Linked DNA regions of Homo sapiens: region 2 is linked to region 1. The links come from fine-mapping of genetic effects on gene expression. A gene starts in region 1. The other region holds a variant in brackets. All regions are shown on one strand. Distances are between the middles of the regions. Region 1 holds the start of THBS4 (thrombospondin 4). Region 2 overlaps THBS4 (thrombospondin 4).

Evidence for each region. PIP is the estimated chance that this variant, and not a neighbour inherited with it, causes the effect.
Region 2: its variant is fine-mapped to the expression of THBS4 in blood mononuclear cells (TOPMed, PIP above 0.99). The same link has a PIP of 0.9 or more in monocytes and whole blood.

The regions. Positions count from the first base shown.
Region 1 is chr5:80,030,212-80,039,796 of GRCh38, forward strand. It overlaps THBS4 (thrombospondin 4), which reads left to right and starts at 5,137. Exons shown (of 22, transcript NM_003248.6): 1 at 5,137-5,414. The coding sequence starts at 5,327. It also overlaps the pseudogene TRMT112P2.
Region 2 is chr5:80,065,996-80,075,580 of GRCh38, forward strand. It overlaps THBS4 (thrombospondin 4), which reads left to right. Exons shown (of 22, transcript NM_003248.6): 10 at 1,978-2,130; 11 at 4,311-4,415; 12 at 4,648-4,755; 13 at 5,026-5,185; 14 at 6,283-6,401; 15 at 7,280-7,332. THBS4-AS1 (THBS4 antisense RNA 1) reads right to left here. Exons shown (of 8, transcript NR_109930.1): 4 at 6,513-6,670; 5 at 6,091-6,228; 6 at 5,737-5,896; 7 at 2,519-2,779; 8 at 354-1,886. Among named protein-coding and RNA genes, the nearest start is that of THBS4-AS1, 13 kb to the right of the region's middle. RefSeq lists an enhancer at 4,194-5,393. The variant T/C (reference allele first, on the strand shown) is at 4,262.

The DNA of each region.
Region 1 (9,585 bases):
TTTTTGGACAGGGTCTTGCTCCGTGGCCCAGGCTGGAATGCAGTGGCATGATCATGGCTTTCACTGCAGTCTCAACCTCCTGGGCCCAAGCAATTCTGTCACCCCAGCCTCCCAAGTTCCTGGGGCCACAGGTGGGCACCACCATGGCTAACTAATTTTTTAATTTTTTTTTTTGAGACAGAGTCTCACACTGTTGCCTGGGCTGGAGTGCAGTGGTGCAATCTCGGCTCACTGCAACCTCCACCTCCCGGGTTCAAGCGATTCTCCTGCCTCAGCCTCCTGAGTAGCTAGGATTACAGGTGCCCACCACCATGCCTGGCTAATTGTTTGTATTTTTAGTAGAGACGGGGTTTCACCATGTTGGCCAGGCTGGTCTCGAACTCCTGACCTTGTGATCCACCGGCCTCGGCCTCCCAAAGTGCTGAGATTATAGGTGTGAGCTACTGCGCCTGGCCTGATTTTTTAATTTTTATTTTTATAGAGATGAGGTCTCACTATGTTGCCCAGGTTGGTCTCCAGCTCCTGGCTCAAGTGATTCTCCCACCTTGGCATCCTAAGTGCTGAGATTATAGGCATGAGCCTCCATGCCTGGCCCCTTTATCCATCTTTTAATGTTAATAATTATATCCATTTCTGTTTCCTTCAAAAATTCAAGTGGAAAACCTGACATAAATAATGGTAACTTTTTTATTATACCTATATCAATTAACACATATGTATAAAACTTCTACTTAGTTGTGCCAAATATCAGTGCACAGTATGGGTGATTTCCCCCACTTGCGAAGAATGGTGCTATAGTCACCGCACAGGAGCAGGATAGATCCCCACTCTCAAAATTGGGTTTGGATATCAAAATCAATAATGCCATCACACATGCAGCAAAGGGGTTTGAAAGGTTTATTGCTCACATAATACGTTTTTTTGGGGGAGAGTAAGATGGGCTTCCAAGCTGGTCTGAAAACTAGAGAGAACAAGAAAGGAGAATGGCTTTGGGATTCTTATTGTGGTTAGGAGTGGGGCTGTGGTGAGGGTTCCTGTACATGGGCTAGGGCTTACTGTTGGAACTTTGTGCTAGTGCCAAGGAAGGAGCACCTAGGCATTCTTATCAGTTTGCTCAGATGTGGGGCAGAGAGGAAGGGAAGTGGTGGGGCTTGAGAACTGTCTGCAGTCAAACATCAAAAATTAAGTCATACTCTGTATTACAACAATTAGAAAAGAAATAAAATGTAGTATATCAGTTCTCTATTGCTACAATATTGTTACATAACAAACAACCCCCAAACCTCAATGGTATACAAAAATAAATGTGTCCTGCTCACACATCTGGAGTCAACTAAACAGCTCTGCTGATCTTGCCTGAACTCATTCATCTGTCAGCTTGATCTTGGCTGGCTTTGCCAGGGGTGGGCTATACCCTGCTCTATGTCTCTCATCCTCCAGTAGGCCAGCACAGGCATGCTATCATGGCAAAGGCAAAGGTGCAGGAGTAAACCAGCCCAATAACACAAGCACTTTTTAAGCCTCTGCTTGTGGCACTTTTGCCAAAATCCTGTTGGCCAAGCATGTTACGTGGCCAAGCCATGAGATGTGTACACAGAAAAATAAAAGATGTGTACACAGAAGAGCAAAGAATTGGGGCCATTTTTGTAACCTACTGCACCTATTAATGGATTACTAATATGTCACAACTCTTATCCTAGATTACAGTATTAAGAGAAGGAAAGTCAATTCAATGATATATTTACTACTAAATGTTAGGTACTGTACTTGGAATTAGAGTTACAAAACTAAATGAGATAATCCTAAGGAGCTCACAGTTGGATACTGGAAAAAAAATCAAACAAATTAATACATTATTAAAATAAATGAAATAAAATCCAATGTAAGTACATGAATAGATATTTTAATAAGAAGTGGCATGGAAATGAAAATAAACTCTTTTGTCTCCTTTATCATATATTTCATAGCTAATTAAATTAATTTTATTATAATCAAATTTACTGTAGACCTGAGGACATAAAGTTTACTGAGACTCCCTAGCGAATGGCTGCATAAAAATGCAAGCCCTCTAAAAGCAAAACCAGATTGTAAATTCTGTTAGGCTAACAGAAAGTCATTTGATTCTTTTGTTTTTCCGTTACACTTAGTAGTCAACCAAAATTTATTGTGTGCCTATATGTGTGTATTAGTCAGAGTTCTCTAGAGGGACAGAACTAACAGGATAGATAGGAAGGGGAGTTTATTAAGGAGTATTGACGCACGATCACAAGATGAAGTCCCACAATAGGCCGTCTGCAAGCTGAGGAGCAAGGAAGCCAGACTGAGTCCCAACACCTCAAGTAGGGAAGCTGACAGTGCAACCTTTAGTCTGTGGCTGAAGGCCCAACAGCCCCTGGCAAATCACTAATGTAGGTCCAAGAGTCCAAAAGCTGAAGAACTTGGAGTCTAATGTTTGCGGGCAGGAAGCATCCAGCACAGAAAAAGATCAAGGCCAGAAGACGCAGCAAGTCTGCTCTTCCGTCTTCTCCTGCCTGCTTTATTCTAGCCATGCTGGCAGCTGATTAGATGGTGCCTACCCAGATTGAGGGTGGGTCCGCCTTTCCCAGTCCACTGACTCAGGTGTTAATCTCCTTTGGCAGCACCCTCACAGACACACACAGGAGCCATACTTTACATCCTTCAATCCAGTCAAGTTGACACTCAACATTAACCATCATGATGTGCAAGCTATTTTGCTGGGAATTTGCTAGGATCGAAAATTCCTAGTTTTTTTGTTGTTTGTTTGTTTTGGTTTTGAATCTTTAATGAGAAAAAATACTATTGTGCTCAAGAACACCGTGCGTCTGGTGTGTCATTGGGTCAAGGGTTGGGGACACACATGGCAGAATTCAGAAACAGGGTAACATCAACAAAAATACACACGGTCATAAAAAGAAAAACTGGCACCTGGCATGATCAACTCTGTTTCCTCATCATTCAGCAGCATGTTGGGGATCCTGCGGCTGATGGGGAACACACGTCCAGACTCTGGGCACTGCAGGGTGCCCTCCAACACATCTACCTCCAGCAGCACGTGGTGCATTGTCCTCACCATGGAGATTCCTAGCAAATACTCTAGGTATTTTAAATAGAAGAAATTTAATACAGGGAAATGATTACATATATAGTAGAAGAACTGAGATGTCAAACAGAAGAGTGAGGCAATCCACATTTTAGCAACTGCAGTAAGTGACCTCCAATGTCATGGCTGGAGGGTGCAAATGGTGAGAAGGCAGAAGCTAGAATCATGGTGGACCCCACCTGCAAGAGTCACAAAGAAGATGCATCCATTCAGGTCACAGAGAAGTAAATACTCTAGTGTCTACCTTCTACCTTCTTATTGCTCTCTAGTCTCCCATTTTATCTAGACTGCTGACAAGCATGCAGTGGAAGGTGAGCACCAGATCTGAGAGGAAACAGGCAGTGTCTGGTGGCACACTACACAAGAACTCTCACAGGCATCCACTAGGCTTGCTTGGTGACTCATTTAAGGAGTAACCCTATTTTATGTATCAGAGTAGTCTATGGTGTGATATAGCATATTGCTGCTTTTGATGTTTGGTTTCATTTGTTCCCTGTAGGCACCTAATCACTGTTTTTTAAATTCCCCAGGAGATTCTGGTATACCCAATCAGCTGAGAACCACTGAATAGTGGCTTTCAAAATTTTGAGCATCCAAATATTGTCTTCACAGAAAATCTTAATCTCTGAAGTCTACTGTAAAAACATAGAAAGGCAAGGCTGTTCTGCTTGAAGCGTAGCTTGGGAGCCTAGATTCCTCTCAAACCCAGGCCACTCCTGGGAACATGGTCTGGAGATTTGAATGTTCCCAAATCTAGTTTATCTCATTAGTCGATATTTATGCACATCCTCTGTGTCTCTCAGTGTTCTCTCATGTGTAGACATATGCCCCATTCCAAAGAGTGACTGTAGTGTAATGTGGCATTAAAGGAACCCTGGATAGACCTGTATTGGACCTTACATATTAGAGAGCTCTGCAGATAGCTCACAAATCTCCAAGTCGCTAGCTGTAAATTGAGTGATAATTGGTGTCAGGTTATTTTAGCACAGTTTGGGGATAAAATGGTGCATTAATCTCCCAGTTTGTGGCTTATTAAACTTTGAAATGGAATTATTTGAGACATAAAAGAGATAGCAATACTTTGCTGGATGTTCTCCATTAGTCGAGATTGTTACAGAGGAGAAATTTTTGCCACTGTTTATCAAATATTTTTTCCTCTAGTTAATCCATATCATTCCGGGAGCTTTGCCCAGGAAAAGGACGAATTACTTGCGTTCCTCCGATCTCTTTCAAGTTCTACTCCCGTACCTTTAAACTGTCACACGGAATCTTTGGTGACAGAGGAATAGAGGTGGGCAAGCAGGGCGTTTGGAAACCATACTGAAAACGAATTATCCATAAAGCACAGATTCACCAGCCTAGAAATGGCTCTGTCTGGATGGATTCCTTGAGATGTGTTTTATCTCCATTAAAAACACAACAACTTTCAAACTTTCACTGTGTCTCAAAATGATAGAGAAAAAAATTCAGCCTTTCAAGTATTCAAGAAAAGCTTGAAGAAATAAAAGAAACTCGCTGCTCTCTGGGCCACTTTAGGAGGCAGAGCGTTCCTGGAGAACTTCAGGATTCATTCGCAAGGGAACCCAAGGTGGGCATTCAAAGCCGATCCAAAGGATATTCTTCTTTTTAGAAAACAAAAGGAGCGCAAGGAGTAGGGGACTGAAGGTGCCCAAAGCTAGTGGGTCAGTGTCACTTTCTTCCTCCCTTTCGCCCCTTTCCTCCCGCTCCTTTCTCCCCTGTGGTCTCTGCTCAGCACCCCTTTCTCTCCAGCCCCGACTGCCCATCTTCGCCCCTACCCTCGCGCGTCGGGGCCGTGTCTACACCCACCCCAGGACCTGGTCCGTCCAGGCTCCTTCCCATCCTCACACCCGCGCCTTTCTCCCTGCGGCCCCGGCTCGCTGCTCCAGCTGCCCAGCTCTTCCCAGGACAGGGGATCCCGCCAAGGGGGCCGCCCCCGCCCCGGCCCTCCCCCGCCCGGCCGCACCATAAAGCGCCCGGCCGCTGCCGCGGAGCCCAGCAGCCAGCTCCCCAGCACCGCACGGCGGGGACGCGAGCGCGCCCCCGACGGCAGCCCGGACGCCGAGCACGGGTCACCTGCGGCGCCGGCCCGGGCGCCGACCGAGGTTCAACGCACGGCCCGGGGACCCCCAGGCGGGGCCAACGCCGCCGTCGCCCCCGGCCTCGCGGGGAGCAGGAAGAGCCAACATGCTGGCCCCGCGCGGAGCCGCCGTCCTCCTGCTGCACCTGGTCCTGCAGCGGTGGCTAGCGGCAGGCGCCCAGGCCACCCCCCAGGGTAAGTGGGTTCGGGTCGGGCCTGGGAGCGCCGGGCACCGGGTGCCCCATCTGCTGAGTGAGTGGAGGGACTTGCTCGGCCCTGTGCTCCTGTGGCCTTGCTCAGCCCCTCTCTGTCCCTCCCGGGCCCAATCAAAGCATATTGTGATTGGAGGTAGTGATTAGTCTAGAATTTTCCGAAATTCGATTATCCAATGATGAGAACAATTGCCTAAATAGTTGGGGGATGCAAAATTGTTTCAGACTATGCAAAGATGTGGGGTGGGGTTGCCTTCAAAACTTGCTACACGGTCCTAGACCTCTTAACATGTTAGGCTCTGGTGTAGGGTGAATTCCGGGTCCTGCACCCTGTGCCGGTTCCCTCCAGGCAGCCTTGCTCCCTAAATCCTTCCTCAGGCGGAGCGATGTATGCCCAGAGTCTGCTCTTGACATCCCTGAGAAAGACGCAGAATTACTCTACTTGCCCTGCCACCTGCATTTTCTGCTCTGACTTTGCTTGAACGACAAAAAGAAAGTTTATTTCAAGGATTGGCTTGATGTCTTAATTTCTGAGGTAAATAGGAAGGGCTGAGAAACTGGTCTTTTTCAATGAAATCAGTTCTTTGCAGCAAGATGGATGCAGCTGGAGGCCATTTTCCTAAGTGGATTAAGGCAGGAACAGAAAAGCAAATACCATGTTCTCACAAGCGGGAGCTAAGCAGTGGATAGATATGGACATAAAGATGGAAACAGTAGACACTGGGGACTCCAAAAGTAGGGGGGAAGGTTGGGAAAACTACCAATTGGGTACTACGTTCACTGGGTGATGTGTTCACTAGAAGCTCAAATCCCACCTTATGCAATGCACCCATGTAACAAACTTGCACATGTACCCTCTGAATCTATAATTTAAAAAGAAAAAAGAAAGAAATTGATCTTTTTCTATGAAACGGTAAAAATTCAACAAATAATGTGAAAAGATACTTGGACAATCCTCAAACCCCTTGGTGAAATGGGGTGAAATAGCCATTGGGTAGAAAGCAGTTAAACAGAATTTTTTGTAAAGACCAAAAGGAAGACATGATTTAAGCAAAGAAAGATCTTAGGGCTATAACTGGCCCTAACTGGTCAGGCGTGAGCTTCATCTGTTTGAACTTGGTGCCTGGGTTGATTTATTACTGACTGTGGAAGTAAAACTGGAAGAGACGCACAACTTGAAGTAAAAGTTGTTTTTCCTCTTGTAGCCAGAGCAAAGACTGCCTATGAGGGCGTTCTCAACTTCCCTGCCTCTCGCTGCTGGAATCACCCATTTAAACTGCATTTCGCCAAATAACTCATTTTCATTCCAGACCAGACAACCAGAACTGTGGTTTCAGGGGTTAGAGTACTGCTAACTTTTAGTTTGTGTTGAAGTATTTGAAATGCTGTAGTCCGTGCCCCATACTTCTAGGAAGGTAAAAAAGGAAGCTTTTAAACACTTCAAAAGTCTTATTGTGATGATATTTGGCAAGTTCAAATTTATAGGTATAATTTTTTTGTGTTATATACGTTCTTGACTTTTGAACATACAGCTTTATGGTGTGCCTTAGGTATGTCTCAGACATACCTGACCATTTTATGGAGATTTGAACTCGGCCTATACAACCTAAATTATCTGGGTAATTTAGTTGCTGTAGATGATCTGATTAAGTTAAGTTTCTGATAGATTCTTTTATTGCATTATCTAGTCTGCAATTATCAGGCTTAACAGGATAATTTGATTATCTCCTTCTTCCCCTGAGCTTCATTGTTGGTCTTAAATTAGTATATATTCAATTTACATACCATGGTAGCTGCGCTCATTGGTAGCAGTAATTTCACCTCTAACAGTAGAGGGTTGTGCTTTGATCCTGGCACTTAAACGTAATAACATTAATAGAAAATGGTAGTGTCTCATTTCCTTTTCAAAACACTCTCTATGTTCATTACTAACTAATCCCATCTCTGCCGCTTGAGAGAGATGCAAATGAATCAGACGAACCATAGATTGAAATACCGCAAGTTTAGCTTGAGTTACATCATGAACCTGATCATAGTCAAAGGAAGAATCAAGAGTACTAAGAATTTTGTTTTGAATGTAGTTCCCATACTTTAAATACATATCTCTTTTCTGAAGATGTTTTGTCCTGAATGGAACTTTAAAACATATTGCCTTATTTCCCTTTGCCCTCATTAGTGGAAATGTAAAGTTTCCAATTCTCTTGAAAATTAAAAAATCCAATTTCCCTTTTGAAATGCAGTAGGCAACAGTGTTTATGGTTTAGGGATATAGGCACTAAGAGGAGCACAGTAAATGTTCTGCTTTCCAACACATCTCATGTTAATTTCATTATTGTGTAAGGACCCCTGGTACATGTGAAAAATACAGTATAGATCCAGTTTGAAGACAAATTGTCTTTTAAAAGGGGTAAATATTCTTGAGTAACTAGGTTTTTGCCTGTTTGCTTTAGAACTTTTATTCATTCTTATTACAAAAGCAATACCTGCCCATTGTAGAAAAGATTAAAGTTAGATAAGCAAAAAATAAAATAAAAAGAAAAGAGGAAATTTAAAACTTATATTTATGCAACCCGGGGATAGCTTCTATTAACATTAACATGTTGTTGTATTGTCTTTCATTTCAAATATTTTTCTATGCAAAAATATATTTCAAATGGAATTACGTTATACATATAGTTTTAGAATCCTTTTTTCTTAATGTATCATGAACATCTTTTCACATCTGTAAGTATTCAGCTACATTTTAAAAATAGGTAGTATTCTGCTTTTTGGAAGAATCAAAATGTATTTAGCCAGGGTTGTAATATAGAACCCTTAAGTTGTTTTCGGTTTTGATATTGTAAATATTAATTTATTGAACAAGTGCAGGTGTCACAGGATGGTTTGGGATGAGTTTAACCATCCCCTCAATCTCAGCCAAGCCCTTCTCTTTTTTTTTGCTAAGGACAGTTAATGTTTTCATAGCAAAATGCTATGCCAACAGAGCTCAGGTTTACCTCTCTTCCAATTAGATTTTCACCTAATTCTTTCCTAAATAGAAATTCTAGAATTACCACTAGTGTCTAATATTCTTGTACCTAAATCATTTACCATGTTATCCATTATTTCCCTAGGATAAATTCCCATAAGCAGAATTGCTAGATCAAGGAGCACATATGTTTTAGGGCCTTTGATACTGTTGTTTAAACTGTCTTCAAAATGTTTATACTAGTTTAAATGTTACACAGTGGTACAGAGAGTGCCCATTTCCCTGAACCCTCACAAACAGTTGAGTACTGTTGTATTTACTAATTTTCCAATTCGATGGTGAAAACAATACGTTATTGTTTAAGTTAGCAACTCCTGCATCATTAGGTAAATACATGAACATTTATTTATATACTTAATGGTCATTGTAATTCTTTTTATGTAAATTGCCTTTTCATATTCCTTGCCCATTTTTCTATTAAGATGCTTATCATTTTATTGATTTGTAAGAACTCTTTATCAATTGTCAATATTACCCATTTAATAACCAGATTATTATATCCAAGAGACAGCTGTAGGTGCTGAAGTTTCTGCAGCCTATGGAATTGTTCAAATGATATTTGCGTCTGCTAATAGATATACTAAATAACTTCCACTGAGTATTACCCAAATTTGGCCTTTGCCTTTTAAATGACTCTGGGCATACTCTCTCATAGCTTTCATAAATATTACAAAGTTTGTGAGAGAAAGTACTGCTTGCTTGATCAAAAGCAACTTATACAAATACAAATGCAGATTCTGATTTTTGTAGAGCAATTCTATCAGTCAAGAGACAGAAACCACATCATTTTGTTTTGTTTTGTTTCCACATTGGGATTTTTTTAAACAGAGAAATGTTGGAGAATTGTAAAGGCACAAAGGGAACACTTAGGTCTCACAAAGGTGGCAAATCACTTTCTACCAGCACATCTACCACCATAGCCATGTTTTCTGCTGCATTTCCTGTCATTTGTCACTGACCAGGAAAACACAATTGGCTCTGGTCCTGGAGGTGCCTATGGGACTCCGTGACAGAAATTCACTGCTTGGGGACATCAGTAAAGCAATGGCTTGGATGCTTTCACCAGTCCCCCTTGTACTTTAAGCCTTTAGTGCTTTTCCTGGTGGGCATTTTCAGAGCTACTTGT
Region 2 (9,585 bases), 36 kb after region 1:
GAAGCAGGAGAATGACATGAACCCGGCAGGCGGAGCTTGCAGTGAGCCGAGATCGCACCACTGCACTCCAGCCTGGGCGACAGAGCAAGACTCCCTCTCAAAAAAAAAAAAAAAAAAAAACTTTTCAAAACTTTTCATTGTATTAAATTAAAGTGCTTAGCACTTAGGGATGCCTATAACTTAAGTATTCAGATATGGGTTTTATTTCTGAAAGTTCCTGTCAAACTGTGTCCAAGATGAGAGATGTACCAGAGTTGACTATCAAGAAAAGAACTACTGATTACGTGTATGACTATTTGAAAGTTATCCAGCCTCTAGGTTCCTTGTTTCCTTGTAAGTAAAAACACTTTACATTTATCAAGTCACTTATTTTAATCCTCACAACAACCTCATAAACAGGGATTATTATTATCCCCATTTTACAATTGAAGAAACTGAGGGACAGAAATATTACATCATTAAGTCCAGGCATGGTGGAGCATGCCTATAGTCCCAGCTCCTCAGGAGGCTGAGGCCGAAGGATCATTTGGGTACAAGAGTAGTTTGAGGCTACAGTGAGCTGTGATCGCCACTGCACTCTAACCTGGGTGACAGAGGGAGACCCTGTCTCCAAAAAGAAAAAAAAGAAATGTTACGTATTTAGACTAAGGTCACACATCTTCCAGGTTGGCTACAGAGCCTGAGTTCTTCTCCGCAATGCTATATTGCTTAGGAATAGATGGGGATTTATTGCTTCTCAGCTTTTACCAGGACAAAGTAGTCTGCAAATAGATTTGCGAGATCTTGGTGTAAAGGTAATAACTGAGCCACCTAGAGAGAAGGAAAGTAGACAGTAAATAGAACTCCAGGAAACCCCAAAAACGAAGGACTAGGCCAAGGAAAAAGAGCAGAAGCCAGAAAAAGGAGCGAACTGATAGCACAGCCAGGGAGGCTGAAAGATCGAGACAAGTCATTGGAAAGCATGCATTGGATTTGGCAACTAAGAGGTTGTGAGTGACTTAAATCATTAAACAATATATATACTTCAAATGGATGTCTTTTACGACCTGTAAATGTTATGCCAATAAAACTGCATAAGATGAAAAAGATCTAATGTACAGCATGGTGACTGTAGTTAATAATACTATATTATATATATGAAATCTGCTAAGAGAGCAGATCTTAAGTGTTCTCACTGAAAAAGAAAAAAAGGAAGGTAACTATGTCAGTTGATGGATGTGTTACTTAACTGACTGTGGTAATCATTTCACAATGTATACGTATATCACATCATCACACTGCACACTTTAAATATATTCAGTTTTGTCAATTATACCTCAATAAAGATGAAAATTTTAATTTTCATTTTTTAAACATATTGTATAATATTTATTACATATATAGTGTGCAGTGTGATAATATATATTATATATATAAAAGCTAAAAAAACCTGGCCCCTGAAGTGTCATTGCAGCGGAGCTGACAGCTCATTTGTCAGTTTCTCAGCCTACCTCATCAGAAATTCTCAATGCAGGCCACCAGCATTTCTCTGTGCACCCATTCCTTTGTCATTCCATTGTAAAAGAGCCAAAGGAACAGCAATAAGAAAAATTAACTTGCTTTTTAAGCAGATCATCTCCCTGTCCCCAGAGTAAACTTCTCACACCACCTCCCAGGACTTCACTGGAACTTTTGACCTGTCCCCTATGCCCTCCACGGTGGCGCGGGCAACTCAGTGTCATTGGTTCACAGTCCAGCCTTCTTCCTTCACTTCTATTCCTTCTTTGTCTGAGTGGCCGGACGCAGCCTCCAGTCTGATGGTGTTTTCATCAACATTCACATGATCTTACATGTAAGCAAAGAAGAAGGCATGGATCTGATGCCTGATTCCTGCCAGCAATGAGTACCTGTGAAAATATACACAATAACTGTACCTTTGCTCAAACTGTACCTTTGCCCACAGCTTTCAGCTCATCACCTGATCTTTGTTCCTTGCAGGGATCTTACCGCTGTGGGCCTTGTAAGCCGGGGTATACTGGTGATCAGATAAGGGGATGCAAAGCGGAAAGAAACTGCAGAAACCCAGAGCTGAACCCTTGCAGTGTGAATGCCCAGTGCATTGAAGAGAGGCAGGGGGATGTGACATGTGTGGTAAGTTGTTTTTTGACTTCCTCTATCATTTTTCCTCTTCCATTTTTAACACCACCTCTCTCCAGTTTCTATGTGCTTCAGGGTAAAAGTACTCCAAAATGAAAGCATTGCAATTAAATGAGCATGGAGTGTAATAGGAACAGGGTCCACCGAGTTTGTGGGGAGCAGCCTGACATCCATCTAACCATCAGCTGCCTTTTCTCTCCCTCTTGGCTGGGGGGCAACCCTGTCCACTTGGGTACCTGGATGCCAGAGCCTCCGGTGAAGCCCCAGCTCCCAAGCACCTTCTATGGAAAGGCCCAGAAGCCAGCAGCAGGGAGGTGAAGGAACATTCTTCTCCCCTTTCCTTCTTCTGCCCCATCTACCTGCCTGTATAATGACAACATACCTGCTGTCATCTCTAACTGTCCTCATCCTTACAACTTCCAGAGTCTGTCTGCCTTGACGCTCCTGTTGGGGGTGGGCCATCGTGTAGAGGTGGGGACTGTCATAGTCCCTCCGGGAGAAACCTTCCGTCTTTGGCAGGTGACTGGCAGGGCCAGACGGCGCCATGCTGTATGTCTACCTCCACTCCAATCAGGGACAGCTCCATGAATGGTCACGCTTCCTGTGCATTCTCCAGCCACGGAGCTGGTCTGGGGAGGGGAGGCTGGGAAGAGAGTAGAGCAGTCACAGCAGGGCCTGACATGGGTCCCATGCTGAGCTTGTAGTGGGCCCTATGTGAAGGAGAGGGCATGCTCCTGCCATCCATTCCCAAATCCAAGGATCCAGAGTCCTCAGCCTGCCATCCATTCCCAAATCCAAGGATCCAGAGTCCTCAGCCTGCCATCCATTCCCAAGTCCAAGGATCCAGAGTCCTCAGCCTGCCATCCATTCCCAAATCCAAGGATCCAAAGTCCTGGGGATCCTAGGCACTGAAAAATCAGCAGACTTCAGCTGCCCCCCTCCTCTGCACTTCCTGGGATGCCAGGCCCTCGGCCGGTGGCCCGTCAGACTCTGGGGTCACTGGTTCACAGTGATCACCCCTGAGTAGCAAGATGGATTCTCGGAGCCCTTTTCCATCTTTATCTCAAAGTTATGCTTCTTTATCTTTATGCATACACAATTTTCCACAATGAGCCTACCACTTTTCAAATAGGAAAAATAAGAGTCAAAAATGAGTTAATAAATAAATATAATGAAGTCAGCCCTCCTTGGCAATACAGATATTCTGTAACAAGGTCAGATGGAAGAATGTGGTGTATCAGAGGGGGAATAACCCCAGCAATTTCCTGAATTCCTCATGGTTGGGCTTGTTTATTACCAAAAAGCAGTCATTGAGAAACAAGTGTATATCTCTGTTGAAATCCCCATTTTCTGTGAACAAATTGACAACTCCCCTGGGATGATGGGTGATGGGGCTCTTAATATGTTTTTGAATTTGTAATAAGGCACAACGACAGATGGTAAAGGATTAATAAACTTGGCGTGACTACTAAAATAATTGAATCTGCCAGAAAATAGCTCATTAAAAATGTATTTGTTCCTAGAGGACATTTTTTCCTCATTAAAGTGAGTCAAGGATCAGCCTCGTGGATCAGCCTTCCAGGCCTTCCAAAGGCCCTGCTGGGGCAAGTGAGCAGGAACCAGGAGCCCGGGAGGGTCTCTCTGGAGTTCTGCCTCCTAAATCCTGGTTGCAGAGGGAGAGCACAGATGATTGAGAATAAGCAGGCTGTGGCTGAGGAAGTCACTGGTCTGAAAGCTTTTGGGTGGTGAGGCCAGGAAATTTAACCTGTGCTCACATAAGTCTGATTTCCCTTGGCCCAGACTCTGCTCCTCAGACTCTCTCCCTCTTCCTTCCTTTACCTCCCGTCCCAGGTCAGCTTTCTCTCCCTCTGCGTTTCCAGTTCCCTGTGACCTTCTGGGTCCCCTCCTCCCATCTCCCTTCTGCTGCTCTGCCTGTTCCTGGAAGTGGGAGTGGGAGGGAGAGTTTTCTCTCTGAGTCTCCCTTTATATCTTTGAATAGTGAACCATTACACTATTCAAGTGCAATTAAATAGTTTCTAAGCCCCACCCAACAAGGCTGAGTGACTCTGGGCCCTCCCCCTGGGATTGAGCAAAGGAGCAGAGAGGCCCTTGTCAGCCACCAGCT[T/C]CCTGCCAGGCTCAGCTTCCCAGGCCTCTGATGGGCTTTCCCTTTACAGTGTGGAGTCGGTTGGGCTGGAGATGGCTATATCTGTGGAAAGGATGTGGACATCGACAGTTACCCCGACGAAGAACTGCCATGCTCTGCCAGGAACTGTAAAAAGGTAAGGGGTGTGGGGTGGCAGTAGGCACACATGCACTGTGGCTTTCCAAAGTCACATCTTCTATGGGGAGAGGTTCTGTGGATCTAATTTAAAATTGTACTTGTAAAGTAGCTGCATCTCAGAGGAAGTGAAACAGCCACCAACAATAAAGCCACAGTGTCTTGAGGTCAGAAACAGTTACTGGCTTAACACAAATGTAGGATGTCACTCGGAACTGCATTTTCCCCCTAAGGACAACTGCAAATATGTGCCAAATTCTGGCCAAGAAGATGCAGACAGAGATGGCATTGGCGACGCTTGTGACGAGGATGCTGACGGAGATGGGATCCTGAATGAGCAGGTACCTGCTTCGCTGGGAGGGCCTGTGAATTGCCACGTACCAGGGATGATGGGAGAAAGCCTGTGATGTCAACTATGTATATGAATCATCCCAAATGTTAGTTTCCATGCCTGCATTCCACAGCACTGCAGCTTTTTACCCTATAAGATTCACAGATGTTTGAAATATAAAACTGACAAACTTGGGCCACCAGAGTGCTGATGCTTCACAACAATGGAGGAAGTGGATTTAGTAAAAGTCTGAGTGATGTTCTGTCCTTTCATCTTTTAGGATAACTGTGTCCTGATTCATAATGTGGACCAAAGGAACAGCGATAAAGATATCTTTGGGGATGCCTGTGATAACTGCCTGAGTGTCTTAAATAACGACCAGAAAGACACCGATGGGGATGGAAGAGGAGATGCCTGTGATGATGACATGGATGGAGATGGTAGATTTATCTTGCTTTTGTCTTTTATTTGGAATTCAGTTGACCTTGTTCCATTGTTCTCTGAGAGAGTAGGAATAGAATGACTGATTCGGAGCCTTCCAGCTGTGGGTGGCTCATTGTGGCCTGCATCTGGAAGACCCAAGGTGGACTTGTGTCTATGGAAGGAGACCCCACAGCCCACTCCACTACCTAATGGCTCTGGATGTTTCCAGGACTCTGTATCATTGCCAGAAACTTTGTATGACCCCTTCAAGCAGTGTCTTGTCAGAGTGTGTCTTTATGGGGTATCTCCCTTCCCATTTCTACCTGTCCTCACTCTCCACTATCCTTTCTACATGTGAGAGACCCAGAAGTGGAGAACTGAATGAGAAGGCATTGAGCAGGGTCACAGACTATGCATCACAGGCTACACATCCCATTGTGGGCCCTTGAAGGAAAAACCTTTTTGAAATACCACCTGCCCCAACACACACATACACACACACACACACACACACACACACACATACACCACTCCAGAACATGCACACCCCCCTAAAACATGACCTCACCTTCTGCAAGCCTAACTGATGACCCATTTCCAGTGGTATATGCTGGTAAGCAAATCACAGAAAGCCCTAGTTGGTAGCATTTTCCAGTTTCCATGATGTAACTCCGCATTGTCCTCATTGCTGATTTCAAGCTACCAATGTGACATCATCAAACACAAAACTGAAAAGAGAGGGACACAATGGACCCAGCTCCAGCACAACACTGCCTAGAGCCCTAGGGTCTCAGTCATAGCTCAGATACCCACGAGATCCTCCCTCTCCAGGGTCAGCCATACAGCCATCATGATCCCCTCCTCGTGGTTGCTATCATAGCCCTTGACATCTTGGACAAATTAGAATTCAGTCGATAAATACCTCTGAGAGCTGTTCATTTTTAAGTCTCCCAGAATCCGTCCTTTGAAGCTACCTCTGGATAACTGCAGAAAAGGGTAGTCTCTGTGTGACACTGGCCCAGGCAGAAGTGACTCACCATGCGCCTGATCTCTCCAGCACCTAGAAGAAGTCAGTGACATTCCCCTGACTCAAGGTAGCATTTCTTTCTCACAGGAATAAAAAACATTCTGGACAACTGCCCAAAATTTCCCAATCGTGACCAACGGGACAAGGATGGTGATGGTGTGGGGGATGCCTGTGACAGTTGTCCTGATGTCAGCAACCCTAACCAGGTTAGTAGGATACTGGGGAATTCAAACTCCAGGCTGAATTCCTCTATGCAAAGACTCATTTAAGACGGGTGTCTAGAAAAACAGCAGAGCCTCTTAGCTGTTGCCACTTACCTAACAAAGCAGAGGTGGAAAAATGACACACTGTGGGCCTGAAGATGGTGGGATGAACACCACACAAGATCTGAAGCCCTAGGGACTATCTCCCAGGCTGTCGATTGCCTGTGAGGTTAGTAACACGAACTTCATGATGCTCAATACAAGTATTTTTCCTGCAGAAAGGAAAACGGAGCATGGAAATTAACCATTGGGAGCCTTGTGTCCCTTTAGTCCCTAAACCCCTACACAGCCTATGTATGGACATTTCAGATTAAGTTCAGCCAGGGATGTGTTGCATCTCCCTTCTCACTCCTCCTCCCTGTCTGGATAATTGGGTATGATGTGTCATTTATTTTTAAAGCCCTGAGAGAGGGGAGTCATGGTTGCCCTCTGTGACTCACTCATGATTTTGGCCAAATTGCAAATTGCAGAAGCAAAGCAAAATCAACCTGCCTTCTCCCCATGCCTATGGCTGGCTCCCTGTGACCCGTGCCAGAGTTCCATGCCTCCACCTGCCACCATGCTACCCCAGCGCCCCTTTCCAATCAGCTCATCTGGTGTGTGGGCAGCCCATCCATGTAGCTTGATATTTTAGAAGGCTTTTTTGAAAATTCAGCATTGTGCCTACACCAATATGGTGTTGTCCTTTTGCAGTTTTGCACCACCCCGGTTCCAGAGAAATAATTCCCCAAATCCAATGATGATGGGTGAGGTCTGCCTTCTCTGGAACATTCGGTACATGCAGGCCCAGGAATAAATAACATGTGCTGTTCTCTTTGCAGTCTGATGTGGATAATGATCTGGTTGGGGACTCCTGTGACACCAATCAGGACAGGTATGGCATGTCTCCCAACTGCAGAGAGACAGATGCAAACATCCGGAGAGGGTTTTTGGTTTGTTTTTTTTTTTGAGGCGGAGTCTCACTCTATCACCCAGGCTGGAGTACAGTGGTGCAATCTCGGCTCACTGCAAGCTCCGATTCCCAGGTTTATGCCATTCTTCTGCCTCAGCCTCCCAAGTAGCTGGGACTACAGGCGCCCGCTACCATGCCTGGCTAATTTTTTTGTATTTTCAGTAGAGACGGGGTTTCACCATGTTAGCCAGGATGGTCTCGATCTCCTGACCTTGTGATCTGCCCGCCTCGGCCTCCCAAAGTGCTGGGATTACAGGCGTGAGCCACTGTGCCCAGCCCGGAGAGGGTTTTAAATTTCAGAACTTCCTGCTGCTCCATTCCTTGGGATCTTTCTGGGTGGACTGAGCTGCTGGTGGGATAATAGCCCTGCCTCTGGTCAGAATTACCATGAAAATTCTCCCTGAAAGTTCTGTATAGGGTATAACGGTGTCAGAATAGGTTACTAGGCACTCCAGCAAGTGAGATCTATTTCAGGAGAGGTAATATAGCATCATGCTTCACAGATGGGCTCTGGAATAAGACAGCTAGATATAAATTTCAGCTCCTTCTCTTACATGCCAGCTAACCTTAGGCAAATTACCTAATACTTTTGCCTCAATTTTCTCATCTGTAAAATGAGGATGACAATAGATCTAGCTCATAGGACCATCGTGAAGATTGAGTTGATCCATGGAAAGTGCTCATTATGGTTTCTGTTATATACATAGCACTCAATAGACATTAGCTCTTTTATTTTTATATTCTTTCAGCTCAGGAAAACTTCACCATCATCCCAAAATAGAAGGCTGTCAGTTTGCTGAGGGATTGCTATTATTTCCTGGTCCTTGAAATTTTTTTAATTCAGTTTTCCTTATTTAAGTGGAATTGTTCTGTGGAAGTGAGTTTTGTGAACCCTCCTAGCTCAACACGATGGAGTCCCACATTAAGACTCAAGGCTGGATCAACTGATCAGATTCTGGAAGAACATCACCAAAAACAGACGTGTGTCACTCAGCCCTAGCGGCACCTGCAACCCAAGGTTCTAAACCCTTTTGTCTCCATAGGGAATTCTTACAAAGGCAGCCAGGACAAGGATGAGAGGGAAAGGATTCTAAAAGAGAAAGCAAAAAAAGATGCAATTTCTCTCCTGATACCTGGATCAGAGGTTGCCCTGCAGAAAACCAGTTCCTGACCCAAACCTTACTCAAGGACAGCTCCTATGAAGCCACAGCTCTCTCTCTCTTTTTTTTTTTTTTTGAGATGGAGTCTTGCTCTGTCACCCAGGCTGGCGTGATCTCGGCTCACTGCAACCTCCACCTCCTGGGTTCAAGCAATTCTCATGCCTCAGACTCCCACGTACCTGGGATTACAGGTGTGTGCCACCATGCTGGCTAATTTTTGTATTTTTAGTAGAGACAGAGTTTCACCATGTTGGCCAGGCTGGTCTCGAACTCCTGGCCTCAAGTGATCCACCTGCCTCATCCTCCCAAAGTGTGCATCTCTTTCATTATGCTCTGTGTCCTTGCTGCAAAGTACATATAGTCATCCCTCAGTGTCCCAGGGTATTGGTCCCAGGATACCCCTCTGCCCCCAGGATACCAAAATCCTCAAATACTCAAGTCCCTTATATAAAATGATGTAATATCTGCATATAACCTATACCTGTCCTCCTATATGCTTTAAAAATCCTCTCTAGATTACTTAATACCTAATACAATGTAAATGCTAGGTAAATAGTTATTATACTGCATTGGTTTCTTATTTGTATTTTTTTGGTGTTATTTTTTATTGTTCTTTTTCAAATCTTTTCAATCCTCAGTTGGTTGAATCTGCGGATACGGAACCGCGGATACAGAGGCCTGACTGTACTAGCTAAGTGAACTTAAACATATTTCCCAGTCTCTTCACATCTCAACTTCTTCATCTGCAAAGAGGAGATAAATAAATGCATCGCACAGGTTATGGTGAAAAATCAAGATAATGTAGGTAAAGCTCCCGGCACAGTGCTGGCCCAAGGGTGACATGCAGAAAACAGGGGCCGTGTTATTATTGGTATCACAGTACAAGGAAAGGCACATCAGCAACAGAGCCTGACATCAGATGTCCCTCTCCTCTTCCGAGAGGAAGGTGGGACTGTATCCTGACAACTGCCCTAAATGATGTGCGTCAAGAATGTTCCCTGGTGCAGGTCATCTT